3 separate regions of the Homo sapiens genome follow, and regions 1 and 3 are each linked to region 2. Evidence: fine-mapped expression QTL. A gene starts in region 2. Each other region holds a variant in brackets. All regions are shown on one strand. Distances are from middle to middle. Region 1 holds the start of ELK4 (ETS transcription factor ELK4). Region 2 holds the start of SLC60A1 (solute carrier family 60 member 1). Region 3 overlaps SLC60A1 (solute carrier family 60 member 1).

Region 1 (8,181 bases), 64 kb after region 2:
ACGATAGAAGGTTGAGGACAGTAAAAAAAAAAAAATGGCTTTGGCCGGGTGCAGTGGCTCACGCCTATAATCCCAACACTTTGGGAGGCCGAGGCAAGTAGATCACGAGGTCAGGAGATGGAGACCATCCTGGCTAACAAGGTGAAACCCCCGTGTCTATTAAAAATACAAACAATTAGCCAGGCGTGGTGGCGGGTGCCTGTAGTCCCAGCTACTCGGCAGGCTGAGGCAGAATGGCGTGAACCCGAGAGGCGGAGCTTGCAGTGAGCCGAGATCGTGCCACTGCACTCCAGCCTGGGCAACAGAGCAAGACTACGTCTCAAAAAAAAAAAAAAAAAAGAAAAGAAAAAAATGGCTTTGAGGTTTTAGACTGAAGTATTAGAAATGAATTTTGAGAAAAAGATATAAAGTGGACATTTTCACTGGGTACTTTAAAGGAATATTTTATTAATTCAATTATGATATCGTTATTCTTTTGATTGAAAAGCAGCCAACGTCTTCTTACATAGTTAAGTCAAAACTCTTCATTTTAGTTTCAAAAAGTGTGGTATTAACAATGATCTTCAATGATTTCATCAGATATAAAAGAGAGCTGGCCGGGCACAGTGGCATACGCCTACCATCCCAGCACTTTGGGAGACCAAATCGCTTGAGGTCAGGGGTTCTAGACCAGCCTGGCCAACATGGTGAAACCCCGTTTCTATTAAAAATACAAAAATTACCTGGGCGTGGTGGTGGGCACCTGTAATTCCAGCTACTAGGGAGGCTGAGGCAGAAGAATCATTTGAACCCAGGAGGCGGAGGTCACAGTGAGCTGAAATCACACCACTGCACTCCATCCTGGGCGACAGAGCAAGACCCTGTCTCAAAAAATAAATAAATAAAATAAAAGCTAAAGAAAAAAAATCCCCTAAGACAGTTATTAAAAATTATGTGGTTGCTTCATGCCTGTAATCCCAGCACTTTGGGAGGCCAAGGGGGGAGCTTGAGCTCAGGAGTTCACGACTGGCCTAGGCAACATGTTGAAACCCTGTCTTTACCAAAAATACAAAAAATTAGCCGGGTATGGTAGTGCGTGACTACTCGGGAGGCTGAGGTGGGAGAATGGCCGGGAGATGGAGGTTGCAGTGAGCAGACACCACATCACTGCACTCCAGCCTGGGCAACAGAGTGAGACCTTGTCTCTAACAAAAACAAAAACACAACAAAACAAAACCAAACAAAACCTTTTATTCTTGTTACCTATCAAAAAAAAAAAAGAGGCTAATTACTTGATTTTCCTTCTTACAGGAATCCCGAGTTTTCCACAATTGCAATTTTTAAAGTTTAAAGTTATAACAAAGGAAGAAAACACTTAACTGGTCCAAATGAAGGTATTTGATTTTTGAGGGGGTAAAGGCTGAAAACATAATTGATTCTATTTTAACACTTCAAAGATAGACCAATCCCTGTCCTAAATTGAAAGGGAGCATGTTGAAGTAATGTATTAAGGAAAGGAAGTCTCTATTAAATAAAACCTTTTCCACCCTAAACATGTTTATAATACACACAGTCCAGTTGCTGTGGTGACCCATAGCCCAACTATTTTTCAGAGACAGTAGCTAAGACCCAAAAAAACACAAAGTCTCCAAATTTTCTTCAGCCTGCTACTTAAAAAACCAAGTTATGAATGTATCAAGCCTAGTTTCGAATCAAAATACTCACCGTTGTCAAAAAGTAACCAAAAGTAACATGACGTTTTTAACTACACAGGCTCCTAAAAAATACTCTTTGTATAGGATCCTGCACAGTTCTTACAATATTCTTACAATAAAACTTAAAGACACTACCTCACTAGGAATGAACAGATTCCACTTACGCAGTTTTAATGTTTAAGTAAAATCAAAGAGAAGAGTGTTCCTGAAGGGAAAATATTGAATCATACTACATTTTAATGAAAACACCGCTGCCAAACCTAAATATTGAAGCACCAAGTTTTCCAAGCCAGGGGGTGTAGGGGGTGGGAAAAGACGACAGAGGATCTGATCTATCAACCAAAGAGATGGACAAACCATTCTGATGAGGCATAGAACTCCAGAATCTTTATTTAAATTCCCCAAATTTCAAATAGCAATAGCTGGAGAAAAAGTGAAGTGTGTACTTTTGACTACTTCAGTCAACAACATCCCTATTTCCTTCCAAGGCCAGTTACTATCCCGCCCCGAAAGATGTTTCCAATTGATCTTCCCAGGAATGAAGTTACCAGCCTCGATGCAGCTGTGCACAAGGCGGAAAGTAAAGAGGGGCGGGGGGCCGCTGGAGCGAAAGAGAAAAAGAAATGAAACTCGACACCGGATGACTAGCGAGCTAGGGGAGAGGAAGAAACGCGGACGGCCGCGTGTGCCCTACAGGAGATCAAAGTCTGGGGGAAGAGGTGCAACCTCACCGGGCCTTGGTAAGCACTGAATTACTGTACTTTCATTTTCCAACTTCCTGTCACTACAGAAAATGAGAATTGCTCCCCTCCTCCCCATCCACGCCGAAAAAATCGCCGCCACCTTTCGCCCACGAGACTTCGGGGGACCAAGAGGCGACGAGAGCTGAGCGGTGCGCTGCGGCGTCCACCTGTGCGCCGCGGTGCCCGGCGGGCCGGGGGCGGACCCAAGGGGAGCGCGCGCGCCCGGCCCCGGCCCCCGCCCCCACTTCCTGTTGTGCCGCGCGCCCCTCGGCCCCCGCCCCCGCTCCCGGCCGGTGGGGCTGTGGCCGCGAGATCCCGAGGGGGCGCGCGGGGCTGACCGCTCACCGACGCCGCGCGCGGGGCTCCCCCTCGGTCTCCGCCTCGAACACGATGCGCCTCTCCGCCCTCAGCCTCCTCCTCACGCTGGAAACTCGAGGACGGCGCGGCAGCCGCTGCGACCCCCGCGGCGGAGCCGTAGAAGGCGGCGGCGGCCAAGCCGAGCCCGCCGGGTGCCCGCAGCCGCCCGCATCTCCCGCCGCCGCGGCTCCTGGCGCCCCGCCCTCCCCGCCCCCGCACGCGGCAGCGGCGGCGCGGGTCTTGGGGCCGCTACACGCCGGGCGCGCGCGTTCGGGGCGTTCCTTGCAGCGGCGGGGCCTGCCAGGCCCTCCGCGGCCGCCGCCACTCTCAAACCCCCCGACTGCTCCTGGGTCCCTCCCAGACGCCGTAGTCGCTACACGTCACTTCCGGGGGAGGGGCTGCGACCCTAAGGGGTGTCGTGAGCCGCGTCTGCCAGCAAACCCGGGTTTGGTGTGGCCGGGGGATGTAGCTCGGGCGCCTCCTGGAGTCGTCTCGCCGCTCTCCGTCGCGTTCGGTGCGGTTGCTTCCAGGTCCCTGAGGCGCCCGTCCGGAACCCGCCAGGACCCAAGCTGCCGCCTGGGCCGGGACCTCGGACTCCTCAAAGGCGCGCCACTTTCTCCTCGGTTGGAGGGAAGAGGTGGCGCTCGCAGAGCAACCTGCGGGGGACCACTTCTGTTGGTGCTAAGCTTTGG[G/C]GAGAGTCTCCTCCCTCCTGTGTCCCTCGTCCTCCTTACCACTCGCTGTTAGAAGTTGGGGCCGTCACAGCTTTCTCATCGAAGTGCCAGATCCCAGGACACTACAAACGCTTGATAAATACTAAATTAGCACTGTGGCTTTCTAGCCTGGGGACTGACAAATGGAAGCGCTGGAGTCGTGGGAAAAGCTTGCCCTGACGATGGAGGCAGCGACCAGAAATCCATTCGTGGCTCTACCCCTCACTAACTCACCAATTTTAAGCAACCTTAACCTCTCTAAAACAGTCATCATTTATAAGGTGGAGAGAACCCAATCTTAGAGTTGTTGTAATGATTAAAGAAAATAAGGTGCATGAAACACCTAGCAAGAGTTTCTAGCTTAGAGGTTCTCATTAAGTAAAATTCTTAAGGAATCAGGTCACACTTGATACAAGAGGCTACTTGAGCAGTTTAGCACCAGAAGGAATGTAAAGTCATAAATTAGGACAGCTGAACAAAACCTCCAAGAAATAAATTAGGTGTTTGTTTAACAAGAAACCAAAGAGAGGTCAGTGTCTGAGTTACTGGTTATTCGAGGCCATTTACTAGCTGTGTGACCTGTAGTGAGTTGCTTAACCTTTCTGGACCTCAGTTTCCTCATGTAAAATGACGATAATGAGCAGCATTGCTGAGAGGATTAAATGAAGTATAGAGCATAATGTACTTAGTGCATTACCTAGCACATAGTAGATACCCAGTAAATCGTGGTGTCATTTATTTTTGCCCCCACAATTGAATGTATAGTTAATTGAACTCACTGAGTGAAATGTGATTCTGTCATCCTTTTGTAGGCTTTTGGAAGAGAATCATCACTTCCTTGATTTCCAGCCTCCTCTTCCATAATACAGAGTAATTATAATCCACAAAGGTAGCTATTCCTGTAAAAACAACTCTACCAAAAGATGTTACCTTTCCAAAATTAGTTTTACCAAAGCATGCAAACATATTAAGACATGTTTTATAAGGAACATGCAGTATCTGAAAAGCACTAGCAGTCTTGGCCCCTAACATAAAATTTTCCTTGCAACAAGTTCCATCTTGGAAACCAAGAAAAAAAAAAGTATTAAGGTAGGCTGTTTAGGATACACCTATTGGAAACATTTGTTTATAAAAAGATTTCATTTTAAAGCCCCCTACCAAGAACAGTTAAGGGTTGTGGAGATCTGCACACTACGCTGCTCTGTTCAAACTGGCAGTAAACATCTGATTCGGCCTTAGGGCCAGTAGTTGTGTCATATCCCTTTTAGACTGAGCTTACGGCATTGTCAATTGCAGTGTATTTTTGGAAAACAGCCTGCTTTGGGAGTTCTTAAATTAGTCATAGCAAATCTGTCTGCTTTTAAATTGACTTTTTTTTAAGGCGGTACATATTGACAGAAGAGAAAGGAAGAAAAGTGGATTTCTAATTAGAGAACTTGAGGGGAAAAGTTAATTAATGTGCCTGGTTTTCCCACTCAAGATTCTATAAATACACAATCTCTCTCCATGGTTCCTCACACAACAGATGGTTCTGTTTGTGCAAACTCCATGGTAGTTACGTTGGTCAACCAAAAAGACTGCTTTTTCGTTATCTTGTTTGGTCACTTTCCCACCAGATAGATGGATTCCTGATCTTAGCCTTAGTTACTCAGAGCCATCCCAAAGAAAATTTGTAGATTTTATTACAATGTTTATTTATTTTTTTGAGACAGAGTTTCGCTCTTCTTGCCCAGGCTGGAGTGCAATGGCGCAATCTCGGCTCACCGCAACCTCCGCCTCCCGGGTTCAAGCGAGCCTCCTTCCTCAGCCTCCCAAGTAGGTGGGATTACAGGCATGCGCCACCATGCCCGGCTAAATTTTTTTGTATTTTTAGTAGAAATGGAGTTTCTCCGTGTTGGTCAGGCTGGTCTCGAACTCCTGACCTCAGGTGATCCGCCCGCCTCGGCCTCCCAAAGTGCTGGGATTACAGGCGTGACCCATCACGCCTGGCTTAAAATGTTTAAATATGTATTTTCTACCTGGCCTGCCCTAGATTTTGTTTTTTGTTTTTTGTTTTTTGTTTTTTTTTTTGAGACAGAATCTCACACAGTCACCCATGCTAGAGTTACAGTGGCACAATCTCGGCTCACTGCAACCTCCGCTTCCCGGGTTCAAGCGATTCTTCTGCCTCAGCCTCCTGAGTAGCTGGGACTATAAGTGTGCACCACCACGCCCAGCTAATTTTGGTATTTTTAGTAGAGACGGGGTTTCACCGTGTTGGCCAGGCTGGTCTCAAACTCCTAACCTCGTGATCCGCCTGCCTTGGCCTCCCAAAGTGTTGGGATTACAGATGTGAGCCACCGGGCCTGGCCTAGATTTTTTTTCTTAATCACTGCAGTTAACTCAGCTCTGCAACCCCTTGCCCCTAATTTAATTACATTTCCTATCCCAATAACACCTAGTTATGATCATTACTTCTCAAGGCAACTTCCTCTTCCCTCTCTTTATTTCACTGCTTCATCATTACTCCCAGTCACTATCCCTTTTTCCTAAAGAAGTGTTTCACGGATTTTTGACTGACTAAGCAAGCATGGAGCCATCCAGTTGCCTGTTACGTCTTTCAAGCAATATCCTGTAGCACGTGACATTAAGAAGAGATATCTTTTAAGTCAAAGACAGCACCCACAACCCCAGGTGGGGACAAGTGTGGAGCAAATTGCAACATGACTGAGAAGAAAGAATAAAAATCTGGGATATCTGGGTTCTAGCCTTTGGGTCTCCCTAAACTCAAAACTTGAACCTCCTGAGAAAATCCTTGCGACTTACCCTTTCTGGGTTTCACTTTCAACATCTTTAGAAATAAAAGAGACATACCTTTCACTTCATGTCTGTAATGGATAGACTAAAAGAAAAAGGCAGTAGGCTGGTTGTGGTGGCTCACACCTGTAATCCCAGCACTTTGGGGGGCTGAGGCAGGTAGATCACCTGAGGTCAGGAGTTCAAGACCAGCCTGGCCAACATGGTGAAACCCCATCTCTGTTAAAATACCAAAAAAATTAGCCAGGTGTGGTGGCAGGCACCTGTAATCCCAGCTACTCAGGAGGCTGAGGCAGGAGAATGGCTTGAACCCGGGAGGTGAGGGTTTCAGTGAGCTGATACCGTGCCACTGCACTCCAGCCTGGGTGACAGGAGCGAAACTGCGTCTCAAAAAAAAAAAAAAAAAAAAAGCGGTTGATCAAATGATGCTTTGAACTCTTGGTAAATAGCCCTATTGCTGTTATATTTGTGTGGACTGAGATCTTAGATAGAGGTAAAGTTATCTTTGAAAAGAAAACTCTGGCTAGCTGTATATTGAATCTGGCAGCACTGGCAACCCCTACTACCTGTTAAGGTCCTAAACTTTACCAAATATAACCAGTAAACGTTTCATCCCCAATAATAAGGCTTTTAATCAGAGGGTATTAAGGGTCCGGAGAAAACCCAATCTGAAGGTCATTGAACAAGGTACTTGTGGCCTCTAGACTGTGAAGTAAACTCATGGCAACATCTTTCAGGACTAGCTGTAATCTCCACACAATACATTGTTTTTTCAGAGAGGACATGACGAGACATGAGTTATTGCAATTACCGCCTGAGGCATAGCAACTGTCTAATATGTTTGATGACCTGTCACAAACACAGGTCAGAAAATAGCTTCATATAATTTTCATTCTTGATCTCTACACCCAGTCTACTTATTTTCTTTTAATATTTTTAACCTCAAGTAATTTTATTGGTCTTTGATAAATGTATTATTTCTAGACTTATAAAAATTGATATGGAATATGTAATAGAGAAAGAAGAGAGAATATATCAATTTTTTTTTGAGACAAAATCTCACTCTGTCACCCAGGCTGGAGTGCAGTGATGGGATCTCGACTTACTGCAACCTCTGCCTGCCGGGTTCAAGCGATTCTCCTGCCTCAGGCACCTGAGTAGCTGGGATTACAGGCGTGTGCCACCATGCCTTGCTAATCTTTGTGTATTTAGTAGAGACGGGGTTTCGCCATGTTGGCCAGGCTGGTCTCAAACTCCTGACCTCAGGTGATCTGCCCACCTTGACCTCCCAAAGTGTTGGGATTACAGGCGTGAGCCACCTTTGGAAAAGGTGTTCCTTAATTGATAAAAGCTCATGAAATCTGCCTTTTGTATAATTGTTTAAGATTCTGGTGTTTGGACCAGCTCCTTGCAGAATACATATTGCTCTGAATTTTAAGCCAAAATAATTTTTCCTCTCTGGTGTATTTTATAATCACTGTCTGGAAAAAAAACTTCTTCAATTAAAGTTAATTAAGGAAGCACCAATATATGATACTATGCTGTTATTACAGAAGAAACTCAAAGAGCATTTGCTCTTCTAGGAATTCTGAGTCTTGAATTGGCAACACTGACACCCTCAGCGACCATCATTGCTGTCCACGACTTCCAGCATTTTCAGAATTCTTTTGCTATCCCGTTGACATGAACAAAGAATTCAGCTAAGGATTCAGAAATGATGGGAGAGGCAGTCAGGCTGACAAACGAAGATATAAGTGCAGCTCTGAGCAGGGTTTTGTGTTGTGAGGGAAGTAAAATGAGGGTTTGGAGAGAGTAAAATTACCACCTCCCACTGCATTAAAGAACATTTCCTGGAAAGGGTGGAGTTTGAAAGACTTGGTG
Region 2 (8,181 bases):
GATGGGCAGATCACCATGGGCCAACATGGTGAAACCCTGTCTGTACTAAAAATACAAAAATTAGCCAGGTGTGGTGGCGTGCACCTGTAATCCCAGCTACTTGGAAGGCTGAGGCAAGAGAATCACTTTAAACTGGGAGGCAGAGGTTGCAGTGAGCTGAGATTGCGCCATTGCACTCCAGCCTGGGTGACAGAGCTACATTCCATCTCAAATAATAATAATAATAATAATAATAATAATAATAATAATAATAAATGAATAAATAAAAGGCCGGGTGTGGTGGCTCACGCCTGTAATCCCAGCACTTTGGGAGGTCGAGGTGGGCAGATCATGAGGTCAGGAGATCGAGACCATCCTGGCTAACATAGTGAAACCCCGTCTCTACTAAAACTACAAAAAAAATTAGCCGAGCGTGGTGGTGGGTGCCTGTAGTCCCAGCTACTCGGCAGGCTGAGGCAAGAGAATGACGTGAACCCGGGAGGCGGAGCTTGCAGTGAGCCAAGATGATGCCACTGCACTCCAGCCTGGGCAAGAGAGCAAGACTCCGTCTCAAAAAAAAAAAAAAAACACAAGAGTTCAGTGTAGTATAAACACCTCTCACCAAGGAGTCAGAAATCCAGGCACCCAGTGATGAACCAATCCTGTGGTCCTTGCCTTGGAAGGGCGGCACTAAACAGAATCAGCACTAGGATAGTTTGGGAGCCCCAAGGAGGGAGCCTAGGAAGGTCAGAAAAAGGCTTCTGGAGAGCCAACCCTTGAGGCAATTAATAGATTTCAGGCTCCAAGAGCTTGAGAACCCTTTACTCCCACAGATCCTTTATTCCAATTAATGTAACCTTTCCATATTTGGGAGTCTCAGATCACTTTCCTTGGCTTGTGACGGTGGGGGATAATTCCCTTCTAATTTATAAGGGGGGAAATCAGAGAGTAGTTAAAGAAGGATCCAAGGTTTTGCCCTTCAAATTTAAGAATAACCACAAGGTGCCCAACTAAGAACAGACATGTGAATACACAGCACAAAGGAAAGACTGGATAGCGTCTGCCCTTGGGGAACTTGTAAGTGGGAGATAAGACATGTAAATGTAAAGCCAAAAGTAATTGTATAATTTTTGTGCAAACAATTCACCTCACCAGCTATTTGTCCAGGACTTGCTATCTGCAAGGCATTCTTTTATGTGAGGCACATGAGAAGGGGTGGAGTTAGAACACAGGTAAATATACTCCCAGCCCTTAGGAACTCATGATTTAACTGGCTCCCGTAAGGGGCTGGAGGAACAGTCCGTGGAATGTAATACCTGGCCTTGTGAAGATAGGGTAGCAGTACAGGAGTGGATGAGAGTCTTGCTGGAAATAAGAATTTAATAGAATTAATTCATCTGGGAAAGATGCCTAGAGGAGGTGGACAGTGTGTGATGCTGGAAAACAGAAGGGACAGAGAAAGGGATGAAGAAAGCAAAAATAAGCAAAACGTTTTCACATATAGACTTGGCTTTCAGACCCCACTCAAAAGTCACCTCTTCCATGAAGCCTTCCCAGGCAGAATTAGACACTTAGCTCTCCAGGCCCTCAAACCACCCCATTACAGAAGGTACCTCACTGCTGCACAGTTGGCCCCCTGTCTCTGTGGGTTCTGCATTTGTAAATTCAACCAACTGCAAATCGAAAATATTTGGGAAAAAAATTCATCTGTACTGAACATGTACAGACTTTTTTCTTGTCGTTATTCCCTAAACAATACAGTATAACAACTATTTACATAGCATTTACAGTGTATTAGGTATTATAAGTAATCCAGAGATGATTTAAAGTATACAGGCCTATGGATGTAGGTTATATGCAAATACTATGCCATTTTATATCAGGGACTTGAGCACCTTCAGATATTGGTATCTATCGTTTCTCAGCCTTTTGGCAAGACCAAGTGTAGTATCTGTTCTTATCAGATATTGGTATCTGCAGGCACTCCTGGAACCAATCCCCCCACGGGATATGGGATATGGAGAGACAACTGTAACTTGTTTCCATATCTGCTTATCTCAACCAGAGGACCTTGTACAGTACCAGAACCCAATAGGTCTTTGACTATGAAGAGGCTGAGTACTGTATTCACGGTGGAATGCCTCCCTTTATTTTTACTTACTTTTTATTTTTACTTTTTACCATTTTAATCAAGTATAACTTACACACAAAAATGCACAAATCTTAAATCTACAGACCAATAAGTTTTTACATATATTTACACCTGTGTAACTACCACCTAGATCAAGCTTCAGAATGCTTCCAGCATCCCAGGCACTGGGGGCTACCTCATTGTGGCAGGGTCATTTGTTACTGTGGCTAGAGGAGCTGAGCCAGCAAGGTGCTGTAGTTGGGGAACGCCATTTAGGGAAATTATGGAAGGATTTCAGGTGTTTGGGCTAGAGAAGCAAAATCATTAGGGCAAGGTCATTTTGGGTGTGAAGGACTTACATGACAGAGCAATTAGATTTGTTCTGTGTGGGGCCGTGGGGAGCAGTTACAGGGCGAAGCATTTCAATTTTGCCTAAGACCATTTCTACAACCAGAGCTCATCCACACTGCAAGCAGAGCCCCTAGGAATATGCAAGGTCCCCAGCACTAGAGGTGTCAGTCAAGAACAGGACTGGCAAGCATTCAAAGGCAGTTATGGGGAGGGGATAGGGGACTCAATTGGAGGCTATTCCTTCCAATTCTGAGCTTCTATGGTTCCTGGAGTTCTGTGATAGTGGCAGAGAAGACTCAGTCAAAAACTTGTGGTTATGATTTGTTTGGTGTTTTTTCTTTTTTTTTCCCCCAGAGGGTAGCTTTTCAGTTTATTACAATTACTGTGCAGGCCCCCCATCATCACTATCGAATAAGTACTTGTCATTACCCACAGAGTGATGAGCCAGAGGGACCCTGGGGCTCCCCCTTCTCTGGGGCTCACTGTCCAAGAAGGGATAGGGCAGATGCAGGGGTGCGGCTATGAGATGGGACCAGTACCTGCAAGAGAAATTGGTTGCCCCACCTCATGCCAAGTTGTCTTGGGGACACCCGCCCACATACCTCCTCAGTCTTTTCAGCCCTGGTCCCCCTGGTGGGCCAGTGGAAATGATGTCATGGCTCCTGTCATTACCAGAAGACCTGGGCAGAGGGGACACCGCAGGGCCTTACTGTTCTGCCTCCAGGGGCCAGATCCTGGCTCCCTTAGGAGCGGGAACACACAGAACCCACCAGCCAGCCCGAGGCCACCTAATGAAGGGACAGCCTAGGTCAGCTGCAGGCTCCTCGAAGGACACCCAGTCTAGAGAATAATCAACCCCTACTCACTGCCAGGGATTTATCCATGGAAGAAAGAATTTTCCCCAGAACTCTTTTTAAATTTTTTTTTCTAGGAGATTATTTCAGAATTCCTCCCGGGGTTCCTCCAGGACGCGGCCCTTCCCTCTCTGCCCTCCTCCAACTAGTTAGAAGGAGAGAGAGAGAGTCAGCATAGACCAGCGTCATCCTCCTCCTTCCCGCACCTGGCCAGGTGGGGAGGAGGGCCTCATCTCAGGCCCTTCCAGGGAGCTTAGTGTGAGGAAGATGTTGAGTTTCTAGGGTTCTCCTTCTAAAGGGCAATGTGATTAACCTCTTGGGGTTCTAATGAAAGCCATGCACGAATACTCTCCCAAGGAGAAACATATGTACAACAAGATTTTGCCTTCTGTTCTGGGGGAAAGGGGGGTGCCGTTAGACCCTCGAAGTCCATCTGTGAAGCGCCTAGGTTTAAAGGGGTCCGGGTTTCCTCCACTGCCACAGCCCGGGTGCGGGGAGAGGGCCCCTAGCCTTATCCGGAGATACAGGATGTCTCGGGCTCTCCATCTGCCGGGCTCTAAAATGGGCGCTCGGTCCCTGGGGGCTGCATCCGGAGGCTGGGGGGACTGGTCGAGGGAGAGCGGGCGGGGGGCAGCGCGGCTCCCGGTTGGTCTCCGCAGCCGGGGGAGGGCGAGCATGTGCGCTCGGGTAGGAGGGGGAGGCCGGCGCCTGGCACCGCACGGGGAAGGCGCGGGAGCGGACGCACTGCCCACCCGCCGCAGAGGCGCCCCCGCCGCCGCCCGGGCCCAAGGGCGGGGCCCCTCGCTGGGGCGGCCCCTCCCCGCCCCTCCCTCCCCGCCGCGGGCCTCCCCAGCCCGGCCGGCCCTCCCGCGGGCGGCACTCGGGCACCGGGCTCGCCGGGACCAGATCCGCGAGCCCGTCAGCCTGCGCCATGGGCTGCGACGGCCGCGTGTCGGGGCTGCTCCGCCGCAACCTGCAGCCCACGCTCACCTACTGGAGCGTCTTCTTCAGCTTCGGCCTGTGCATCGCCTTCCTGGGGCCCACGCTGCTGGACCTGCGCTGTCAGACGCACAGCTCGCTGCCCCAGATCTCCTGGGTCTTCTTCTCGCAGCAGCTCTGCCTCCTGCTGGGCAGCGCCCTCGGGGGCGTCTTCAAAAGGACGTGAGTGCCGCGCCCGTGCGCCCCCGCCCCGCGGCCCCCGGCACCCACCCTCGCCGGGCCGACCCTTCCCTCCCGCCCCGCGACCCGGCCTCTCCCCCGGCCCCGTGGGGCTGCCCGTCGCCCCCGCCTCCCGGCCGCGACCACCCCTCCCAGCTCCATCTTGGCCGAAGAGCTGCCTCCCTCCCTCCCTCCCTCCCCCGCAGCTCTCCCTGGAAAACTCTCTCCAGAGACTGAAGGTGACTTCTGGCTTATTTATTTGTCATCACTCATCCCTGTGAGAGGATAAAACCAGTTCCCACCTGCTTCCCCCACCCACCGCCCCGTGGGGAGAGGAGTGATAGAGTTTGCAGAGGTGGGGAGGGTGCCCCTCTTACACAGCTCCTCTGGGGTTTGTCAGTAGCCCCGGCTGCCGGGGGCGGGATTGGCAGTGAGGTGGAAGGACCGTGGGAGGGCCAGCTCTGTGGCGGTGCAGGGTGCTGGAGGTGGCCTGCGGCTTGACTGATTCCCAGGGCCAGGCTCCACTGTAGGCAGCTCCACATCAGCTAACACAGGCTGTCCCTTCCCCCGGGTAGCCACGGGGTTTAGTGGGTTCTGTGTAGCCCTCCTCCTGAGGCAGCCAGAACATGGTTCCTGCATGGGCCCCCGAGACACACAGGACCTCACCGTTAAGGCCAGGTTGGGAGGGGCAGGGCACTTTACCCATAGCTTGGTAAGGTGACTCTCCAGCCCTGGTGCCAAGGTTCCCCTCCACTCCCCACCCACCTCATCCTACTCCTGCTGGGCCTCTGCCCCACGACAGGGCTCTGGACTCTCCCTGGCACCACCCCCAGAAATCCCCCTTTGACACTATTGCAGAGCCTTATTCTCTCGGCTTAAATTGGACAGGGCCACCTCCGGGCTCCCTTGTGGAAAGACAGCCAGATTCACTCTCCCAGTGCAGCATGGAAAACAGAGACCCATAATAGAATAGGGAATAGATGACTTGCAAGCCAGAGGCTGCTGCTTGATTTCCCCAGTCCCAGCTCCTGGCTGAGTGGTTTCCTAGATCCCATGGACTCAGTCGAGCAAGCAGCCGGCCTGGAGAAAAAACCGCAGTTGGGCTATCCCAGAGAAACCTCTGGAGGGGCCGTTCTGGGCTGTGGTCATGCCCTTTGGCTTAACGCCTACAGGTGTTCGTGAGGGCAGGTGTTTCCATCCACCTTGCTTCCAGAGCTGGTGGAAGGAGCACAGGTGTCAGTACAGATGGACCCCACTTTAAGCCTTAAAAACATGACCAATTTTGGAAGCGATTATCCCCATTTTCCCCAAATCTTCTTGTAAACCAAATTATTCTCTTCTTAAAAAGCAAGTCTCCTTGTGTACACCAGTGTTTTGTGGGTGTGGTACAGGATTGGAATATACAGAAGATTCAGAAAATCTTAAGGACAAGCTCAAGATTCATTCTGCCTAGAGGTTTAATTAGAAACTAAGATAAAGTATCTGTGGCTAGCACAGGTTTTTTGGTTTTAAGTACTTTGACTTACAAAAGCTCCTTTACCTGGAACTTTTAAAGAAAATATGTAGTGCAAAGAACACGGAGGGGAAGGAGGATAATTTGAAATGACAGGTTGGCAGGGCAGGGTTTGTGAAGCCAGCAGAGATGCACACCCACCCAGCTGGGCCATCTCTTCCTGGGTAGTTTTGTATCTTCCTCAGCACTGCTTACCCAACAGGGGGCTCTGAACAGGCAGCAGAGAGAACCCTGCAGCAGGAACTGGCTCACAGAAGAGAAAAAAAATCATGGTAACAATGATAACTAACTTTATTCTGCACTTACTGTGTGCCAGGCACTATTCATAGTACTTCACATGTATCAGCCCATTTAATCTTCACAACCACCTTGCGAAGTAGTACTGTTATCTCCATTTTATGCATAAGGAAGTGGAGGCACAGAGAGGTTAAGAAACTTGGCCCACATCACATGGTTGTTAAGAAGAGGCCTAGACAGAATTTGAACCCAGGTGTTGTCTCTAAGACAGATACTTAGGCAATCCCTCTTGCTTTGTGAGTCATCAGTGTAAACTCTGCAGATCAGGCACAGGTTTGGGATGAGTAGCCCTAAGGATGCTCATGGGCTGGGTATTCCTGAGCTCTGACAACTTCTGGGAATGTAATGGTGGCCCTCTGGGGCTTCCTGCTGGGATCTTTTTGGGGTGGGGTAGATCCTATCAGTGGTTGAGGTTTAAATTCTGAACCTCAGTCCTCCCACCCCCAAGACAAAATGCCATGAAGAACTCTTTCCTTTGGTTAAGAGCAAAGCAGATATACAGTGGAAACAGAGGGATGTCCAGGGGTGGCCTTGAGTGTAGGCGACAGTCTCCCACCACCTTGCTGACTCTGGGCAGCTCTCATCACAGTCTCCCATCCCCCCAGCCAGAAGCTCCACCAGCCCTGCAACAAAGCTTTAAAGCTGGATTCTGTGGGACCATGTCTCAGTTAAAATGCAATACCCCTGCAAGCAAGTGCTTTGCAGCTTAAGTGATTACCAGCTAACGCTCTCACTTGGTTTATACTTGTGAGTGGGGGATTGCTTTAACAAATCTGTGAGAGCCAGCTGTTGCGGGGGAGTGGGGGAAAGTTTAGGATGACACATGGGAGAGGATAGTTGGGGGCAGTGTCTTTCTCGTGGGTTCCTACTCAGGTCCTGCCTACTGCTGGGCCCAGACTGAGGGCACAGGCAGAATGGGGCTTGTGGATGCCTCCATAGGGATGTGCTTTGGGAGGACTACGTGTGGAAGGTGGAGAGCCTTGGCTATTGGAGTGGGTGCAGGGGAAGACTTGAGCTCAGGGCAGCACCAGCTTGCTCACTCTCTCAGAGAAAAACAAAAAGCCACCTGGTTGGCAAGGGTGTGTAGGTGTGTGCTTTGTCAGGCAGGAAAGGGGAAGGGGTATTTAGATTAAAGGTTAGGATTTTTCCTGGTTTCTTGGGGATCTGTCTAACCGCCCTAGGGAATTAGGAGACCCCTTTATCTCGAAGGCGTCAGCATAGGTAAACAACTTTCAGAGCTTCCCCAGGCTTCTCCCAGCCTCACCTTGGCCTCTCCCCTGCCCATGCTTTCTTAACAGAGGGTTTGTCAGAGGATCTGTTGAGTTCTTCCTCTCTTTGACCTATTCACTTTTCTCTTTTTGTTCCTTTTTTCCCCCTCAAATTCCTCCTAATCTGCAAGTCCTACCCTGCCCCAGACCTAGCTATGACTCCCTCCTGGCCATTGCACCAAACCCTGTCTTCCATACACCAGTTGCCCAGGCCACCCCTAGATATGCTGGCCCCCTCCAGTCCCTGGAACACAGGACAAACCAGCTTCTCCCCTTGAGCTGGGCTGTGGTTGGTCTCCCATCCAGAAAGCCTCTGCCTCTCCCTCCAGCACCTTGTCTACCAGTCAGCATGCAACAAACCTGTGCCAAAAGCCTACTGAGCGTCCAGTACCAGACATTGTCCTTGTTTTAAAAATCAGTCTCAACATGGGGCTATCATAGGGTCCCAACTCCCAGGTATGATCCCCAAAGAATTGAAAATGTATGTCCACACACTAAACCTGTACGTGGATGTTCATAGCAGCATTATTCATCCGAGTCAAAAAGTAGAAACAAACCAAATGTCCATCAGCGGATGGATGGACAAACAAAAACGTGGTTTATCCAGCCAGGTGTGGTGGTGGATGCCTT
Region 3 (8,181 bases), 37 kb after region 2:
AGTAGACTGAAAGCAGGATTTGTTGAGGAGTTACAGCTCCTGTCCAGAGCAAATCCTGTAGTGATACAAGGAGAATGTAAACTTGCCAGCTTAGACAGGGATCAGTCCTGAGACTGCTGGCAGTAGCAAATGGCTATTAGAGTAACTGTATAATGGTTTTGCCTGCACTTTCTCTATGTATATACAAATGTACATGTATAAATATAAAAATTAAGTGATCATGGTTCTTGGTAACCTGTCCCAAGTGCTGTGATTCACACGCCTGACACTAAAAGGTTCTTCCTGGTCCAGTCAGCCAGCTGTGACCACCAGCAGCACAGCTGAGTGCTGAGAATCTGGCTGGAAAGAGAAACGTGGCTCAAGTGCTGGCTCACCTTCTAGCTGTGTGGCCCTGGGCAGGTTACTGAGGCTCTTCCAACCTCACTTTTCACATGTAAAATGGCATTTCTAAAAGTACCTACCCTACCTCAAAGGAATTCTGAAAAAAGTAAGTGAATTTGTATAAAGCAAAGCACTCACAATATGCCTGACACACAAACTGCTTAATAAATGTTAGTAATTTTTAAAACCTCCTCATAAGCGGCTTAGAAATTATTCATGTTTGGTACATATTTATTGCAAGTCAAGCAGATCCAACTTTTTTGAAAGCTGGTGGTCTAGGAGTATAGTTTTAATTATATTTGTAAATACTCAAAAGTATTAGATGCCAGTCTAATTTAAATGCAGTCTGACTGTAGCGAGTAACTGACCTGGGCAATGAAAAAGCAGTTGTATTTTTCTTGTGGTTTTTCAAGAAAATATCCTTTTTATACAGATTTAGAAAGAAGAATCAATGGCTATATCGAAGTTGATTGTGACTAATTTGTTAATACAGAAAACAACATTAACACAAATCTAAGAGTACCTTTCCTAAAATAAAATATTTAAACTTATTAAGTGTGTTATCCATTATGAAGAACAATTGATCCTCTTGCATACACTCAGAAACAAATGGTCTGATGTTCCCCAGAGGCAGGTCTCTCTCATACTAATAAGTTAATGTGGCTTATATTTTAGAAGAAAGAAAACTGTCTCACAAGGGAAACTCTGAATTTTTTTAAAAAAAGATAAATAAATAAATAAATAAATAACCTCTCATAGCAGGGCTAAGTGCCACTATTCCCTATTACATAAAATCAGAATAAGGAATAAGGAAAAGGCAGGTCGATTCTTACACCACACGCTTCTCAGTTACACAAGTAGGACTTTCTTCCTCATCTTCCTTTCAGGAATTTGGACATTTCAGAATCCTGTGGAATCACCCTGTTCCCAGATTTTCCTCTGCTACTTGTATATGGAAATCTAACCCATCAGGCACATCGGATTCACTAAAAGAAGACACAGTGACATAGAGTTCTTTTAGAGTGAATTTCGTTTATTCAGTCAAAAAGGATTTGTTAAGCACCTGCTATGTTCAAGGCACTAATCTAGGTACAGACATACAGTGGTGACTGAGACAGAAGTCCCTGCCTCACAAGGATTATACCGCAGGTGAAGACATACAGACAGCAAACAAATACTACACGTAACATGCCACAGGGTGAGGGGTAATGTAGCACCATAGAGAAACATACATACAGGGAATATGGAATAGGATATGGGAATGCCACAGGGTGAGGGGTAATGTAGCACCATAAAGAAACATACAGGGAGTATGGAATGGGAATAGGGAATGTCAAGAGATGCTCTAGGGCCAGGCACAGTGGCTCACACCTGTAATCCCAACACTTTGGGAGGCTGAGGCAGGCGGATCACCTGAGATCAGGAGTTCAAGACCAGCCTGGCCAACATGGCAAAATCCTGTCTCTACTAAAAATACAAAATTTAGCTGGGCCTGGTGGTGCACACCTGTAATCTGTAATCCCAGCTACTGGGGAGGCTGAGGTGGGAGAATTGCTTGAACCTGGGAGGTGGAGGTTACAGTAAGCTGAGATTGTGCCACTGCACTCCAGCCTGGGTGACAGGGTGAGGCTCTGTCTCAAAAAAAAAAAAAAAAAAAAAAAAGATGCTCTGGAAGGCGTTTCTAAGGAGGTCCTATTTGTGTAGAAAACTAAATGATACGTGGGACCAAGCTATCCAAGTACGTGAAAACATCCCATCAGGCAGGGGGCACAGCAAGTACAAGAGCCTTAGGCTGGAATATGCTTATGGTATTGGAGGAACAGCAAGTAGGCTGGTGTGGCTCAACTGCAGTGAGGAAGAGTCAAACGGAACAAGTGGGAGTGGTTGCTAGAGGCCAGATCATACAAGCCATGGTATGTGTAGAGGTTTTTTGGAGTGATGTAAGATGACTGGAAGAGTTGTGAGCAGGCAAGCGACACGATCTGATTTACATATCTAAAGTATCACTGGTTACTATGGAAAAGAGACTATGGGGCAAGCATGGAATTGGGAAGACCACCTGGGTACCACTGCAATAGACTGAAGAAATAATGGTGGCTTGGAAATGTAGATAGCAACGGAAGTGGTGAAAGTGATTGGATTCAAGCAATATTTTGAAGGTGAAACTGACAATTTGCTGATGGATTGGGTGTAGTGTGAGAAAGATAAGAATCAAGGATGGGCCGGGAACGGTGGCTCACGCCTGTAATCCCAGCACTTTGGGAGGCCAAGGCAGATGGATCACCTGAGGTCAGGAGTTCGAGACCAGACTGGCTAACATGGCAAAACCCTGTCTCTACTAAAAATACAAAAATTAGCTGGGTGTGGTGGCAGGTGCCTGTAATCCCAACTACTCGGGAGGCTGAGGCAGGAGAATCGGTTGAACCTGGGAGGCAGAGGTTGCAGTGAAGTGAGATCACGCCACTGCACACCAGCCTGGGTGACAAGAGTGAAACTCCGTCTCAAAAAAACAAACAAAAAAGAATCAACGATGACCTGAAGGAATCTGACCTAAGTAACTGGGTACATGATGAAGCCATTTAACTCTGGAAGGCCATGGGGAGACATTCTGAGTTCTATTTTGGACATGATCATCTTATGATGCAATCTTGGATGTCAAGAAGGCTGTTAGATATAGAAGTCTAGAGTTTAAAAGAGAAGTCAAAGCTGAAGATACAAATTTTGTGGTCACATAAAGAAGTATTTAAAGTCATAGGACTAAAATGACACAAGCTAGGGAATGAATGTAGAGATGGACAGATTGAGCCCTGGGATTCTTCAACATCTAGAGTTTTAGAAAAAGAACAAGTCCCAGCAGCGCACATGAGAAAAGCCAGAGAAATAGGAAGTTCAGGAGAAAATGTGGTTTCCTGGAGGGCACATGAAGTGCATCTCAAGAAGGAGTTAAGTAATCAGTGCTGCCAAGAGGTCCAATGAACACCGAATGTCAACCACCAGATGTGGCAACATGTAAGGCAATATGACCTTGACCAAAGAAGATAGTTTTGGTTAATTATGGTGACATATTCAAAACATATGGTGGTGGCTCATGCCTGTAATCTCAGTGCTTTGGGAAGCCAAGGTGGGAGGATCATTTGAGCCCTGAAGTTTGAGGCTGCAGTGAGCCATGACTGTGCCACTGCACTTCAGACTGGGTGACAGCACGGTTGACCCCAAAACAAAACAAAAAACATGGGAACCATCCAATGGACTCCTTAACACCAATGCTTGTCAGCTGACTGGCACAGCTGTTTGAGTTTGCGCTTTTTTTTTTTTTTTTGAGACGGAGTTTCACTCTCATTGCCCAGGCTGGAGTGCAATGGCGTGATCTTGGCTCACTGCAACCTCCGCCTCCCGGGTTCAAGCGATTCTCCTGTTTCAGCCTCCCTAGTAGCTGGGATTACAGGCACGCGCCACCACACCCAGCTAATTTTGTATTTTTAGTAGAGACAGGGTTTCACCTGTTGGTCAGGCTAGTCTCTAACTCCTGACCTCCGGTGATCTACCTGCCTCAGCCTCC[T/C]AAAGTGCTGGGATTACAGGCGTGAGCCACTGCGCCCGGCCCACTCCTGTTTCATTTAATAAAATGAAGTCACTTTCATAGACTCCCTGCAGTTACAGGGGGTCGGTCGTCCAGTTAGTACAGTGTTTTGTAGCAACAATCAATGTGAAATCATCTAACTGTTAATTATTATCTCCTACCTGATAATGCCAACCCTGGAAAATTACCCAATATTAGGGTATTAGTTTGTCATTAAACGCACCTATAAAACACAGAAAGTGCTTGCAAAACAGGTAGGCTTCTCAAAATAAGTGTCAACAGTCAGAAAGGTTAGAAAACGGTGGTGACTTAAACAGGCTTTTTTTTGTTTGAGATGGAGTCTCGCTCTATCGCCCAGGCTGGAGTGCAGTGCCATGATCTCAGCTCACTGCAAGCTCCACCTCCTGGGTTCACGCCATTCTCCTGCCTCAGCCTCCCAAGCAGCTGGGACTCCAGGCGCCCGCCACCACGCCCAGCTAATTTTTTGTATTTTTAGTAGAGACGGGGTTTCACCGTGTTAGCCAGGATGGTCTCGATCTCCTGATCTCGTGATCCACCTGCCTCGGCCTCCCAAAGTGCTGGGATTACAGGCATAAGCCACCACGCCCAGCCTAAACAGGCTTTTTAACTGAAGGACTTGGCACTTTTCATATTCTGAAATTTCCTTTTGAATTTCCGTGAAGAACCCATTTCCCAAACTGATTTTACCTCGTGGGACTACCGTCGCAGTTGATACTCTGAGAGCAGTGTGTTAGGAGCATGCAGTAGTCCTCACTGTGCTCCACATGCTGACTGACCCACCAACCAAAGTGACATTTCACCCATTTCACCAGGGTAGTGAACTGCCCCCTTTGCCCCAGAACAATCTGTCACTCTATCCTCCTGTGATTTTCATTAAGAGATACGAAAACAGCTCTCTGCTGTCATTTTGCCACCTATAAACCCCACTTTTGGGCTGGTTACAGTGGCTCATGCCTGTAATCCCAGCACTTTGCGAGGCCAAAGCGGGCGGACCACCTGAGGTCAGGAGTTCCAGACCAGCCTGACCAACACGGAGAAAACCCGTCTCTACTAAAAATACAAAATTAGCCGGGTGTGGTGGCGCATGCCTGTAATCCCAGCTACTCGGGAGGCTGAGGCAGGAGAATCGCTTCAACCCAGGAGGCAGAGGTCGCAGTGAGCCGAGATCGCACCATTGCACTCCAGCCTGGGCAACAAGAGCAAAACTCTGTCTCAAAACAAAACAACCCACTTTCCCTTATGTATATTATTTTGACCCAATTCTAAAAAAGCCTAATTTCATTTGCTAAGTGAAGTCTACATTGCTTTTTACAAGGGCTAGATAAAAGCCTCTGATTTTTTTTTCTTTTTTTTTGAGATAGGATCTTGCTCTGTCACCCATGATCACACCAGTGCAGTGGTGTGATCTCAGCTCACTGCAACCTCTGCCTCCCGGATTCAAGCGATTCTTCTGCTTCAGCCTCCCGAGTAGCTGGGACTACAGGCACACCCCACCACGTCCAGCTAATTTTGGGAGGATTTTTAGTAGAAACAGGGTTTCACCATGTTGGCCAGGCTGGTCTCAAACTCCTGACCTCAGGTGATCCACCTGCCTTGGCTTCCCAAAGTGCTGGCATTACAGGTGTGAGCCACTGCACCCAGCTGATTAAATTTTTAAAAACCCTTTATTTTTCAAGTAAAACAAAAAGAGATTTCACATGGTGAATATTTTTTCTAGCCACTCAGTTCTCTCTTAATTCCTTTTATGTCAACAATCATTTTACAATCTCCCCTGTTCACCACCTATCTGAATCTAGACTTTAAATATTTTAATGTAGATACATATCAAATTGTTGAAGGCCAGATTTTAATGATAGCCATTGGGAAAACAACTCTTTCCTGACCCACAGTTAGCATGGATGAAAATGTAATACAGAGACTGTAAAGAGACCACCTCAATGAATGTGAGAGAAGGGAATAAATAATCAATTCAGAAAATCATTTTGTTAAAAATATTTATTTAAAAAAATACAACTGCTGTCCATATCTAGTTGCACATATATCTATTAACATATATGTATACTTTTAGACTTGTAGTAAATTTGCTACAGTGCTTTTGTAAAGCCAGCCTGCATTATACAAAGCAAATTCCTCTGTCAGTTCTTACATAAAATAGATTTTTAAAAATGTATATCTTTCCTAAAAGATGCATATCACCATTATAGAATTTAACAAAATTTTTGCATAAAACCTGGGAAGTGATAGAAAAAATGATCACCTGATTGGTCAGAGCAACCCCTTACTATGTCTGGAGATGCACTGAGTATCAACTACACATTTTTTTTTTCAAGCAGCATATTATTATAAAGCCCTCAAAGTGCTTTTGCATCCTTTCGCTCACCTCTCTACACTCTATAAAGTTTCTCTGCCGTATACAGATAGAATTCAAGACTCTAGCTACAATCATCCTAATCAATCTTAGAGCAATATCCCTTTGTTTCCCAACAGGTAAGTCAGACTGCTTAGCTAGGAGATGTGGCAGCTTCCCTCCAGCTGTTTCATCAACTAACATGAAGTTTAATAAATGTTAGCAGTGACCATTTTAATTGCTTTTTTAGGAAAAAGAAAAAAAAAAGGTGCTTTTAATACTTTGAAGGTGCTTTTTAGGTCTCCCTAATGTAAATTATGCTGAAATCAACTAAGACGAGCTATTATTAACACTTTAACAGTTATCCATTCCTCTGGGTAGGTGTGCACTTACATTATATGTAAGTATCTCTACAAAGTGTTAGATACTGGATATGAGATACAGATTTCAATAAAACAAGGGAAAAAATAAGCAATGAAGTAACTGTCTTCTCAGTTGAGCTGACAGGTTTGAAGAAAGCACTCTTGACATGTTCTTACTACCACATATCCCAAACTAAGACATACACATAAAATAACATATCTCTCCTGTGTTAACACTGATGGAGACGCACTGCAATAGTCCCATGGCAGACATATGCTTTTCTTCTGAATTACAGATTGGCTTAATGAAAATTAAGAGTTTATTATTAAGCATCTTTTAATTTTTAAGTGATGTTCATACTTGACGGTTCAGAAACTGCCACTGCCACTGTGGTTAAATCACTTGGTGTATGGAATTTAAAATAATCTAACCTAGAGCTATTTCCCATTAATCAAACTCATCCCTAATTGTCTCTTAGGAAGGTCTTCTTTAAAGAAGATCGAGTAGGGCTCATGAAAAATTATTGGTTTGTTCTTCAAAATGCAAAGTTACATACCCTTATTTTTTAGCCAATTTGATTATTTGGTAAAGCAAGGGCATAATTTTAAGAAACTAATTTTAATCAAAAATTTTTACTTGCCTCAAACTAAAGCTAACCAGTAGCAAAATGACTGGACTGAATTTCATATTTAATCTTCCCTGCCCACAAAGATAAATGAAACTGCTCAAAGGCAAAAATAAAGAAATATAATTGTGATTAGAAAAGATCCAGGGCCAAAACAAATAAATAGGCCTCAAGGAATAAAAAATTAATTGTATTCGTTTCTTTTCTATCTTTACATATACGCATCTGTCAATTTCACTAATACTGAACAGGGAAGTTCATAAAAATGCTACTCTACCACTTAAACAATAAATGTAAGCAATGAATGTACATACAAAGGCCACTGGTTAATACTGCCCCAAGTAACAAAACAATGAAATGTCAGGATTGTGTCCCCTACACAATAGACAATAAGCAACAATGACCAAACAGAAAAGAAACTTAAAATTGGATACTTTATAAATTTAAGTGTAATCTATCAATTGCAAATTATTTTTAAAAATCGTAAATTTCTACAAAGCACAATATTAAAAGCTTGCAAATTATTTTAAAATATCCTAGCCAAAAGGGCATACCTTACAGAGCCTAGAAGAATGGCTCATTAGGTAACCCATTTATCCCTTCTACAAACACCCTATAAATTCCAGAAAACATAAACAAGAAATAAACCTTACTTCTCTGACCCTCAATATCCTTAAGTTGAAATTAAACAAACAAAATAATCATTAAGTGCTTCCAGTTATTAAAAATGAAACAGTGCTAATATTGGTGCCCAAGAAAGTGCCAAGTGATTAACACCAATATATGGCATTCCCACCCCTGAACTTTAGGCATTCTTGAATGATTCCATTGGCTAGAACTCTGGGCCAGCCACAGGAAACCCCCACC

What was found. PIP is the estimated chance that this variant, and not a neighbour inherited with it, causes the effect.
Region 1: its variant is fine-mapped to the expression of SLC60A1 in tibial artery (GTEx, PIP 0.96).
Region 3: its variant is fine-mapped to the expression of SLC60A1 in thyroid (GTEx, PIP 0.97).

Annotation. Positions count from the first base shown.
Region 1 is chr1:205,628,850-205,637,030 of GRCh38, forward strand. ELK4 (ETS transcription factor ELK4) reads right to left here and starts at 3,162. Exons shown (of 5, transcript NM_001973.4): 1 at 2,783-3,162. RefSeq lists enhancers at 1-206, 2,210-2,629, 3,240-3,549 and silencers at 2,640-2,829, 2,920-3,069. The variant G/C (reference allele first, on the strand shown) is at 3,487.
Region 2 is chr1:205,564,824-205,573,004 of GRCh38, forward strand. SLC60A1 (solute carrier family 60 member 1) reads left to right here and starts at 4,191. Exons shown (of 10, transcript NM_181644.5): 1 at 4,191-4,476. The coding sequence starts at 4,247. SLC60A1-AS1 (SLC60A1 antisense RNA 1) reads right to left here and starts at 4,482. Exons shown (of 4, transcript NR_152721.1): 1 at 4,306-4,482. It also overlaps the pseudogene RNU2-19P. RefSeq lists enhancers at 4,472-5,021, 5,022-5,570.
Region 3 is chr1:205,601,987-205,610,167 of GRCh38, forward strand. SLC60A1 (solute carrier family 60 member 1) reads left to right here. Exons shown (of 10, transcript NM_181644.5): 10 at 1-932. ELK4 (ETS transcription factor ELK4) reads right to left here. Exons shown (of 5, transcript NM_001973.4): 5 at 5,957-8,181. Among named protein-coding and RNA genes, the nearest start is that of ELK4, 26 kb to the right of the region's middle. The variant T/C (reference allele first, on the strand shown) is at 3,941.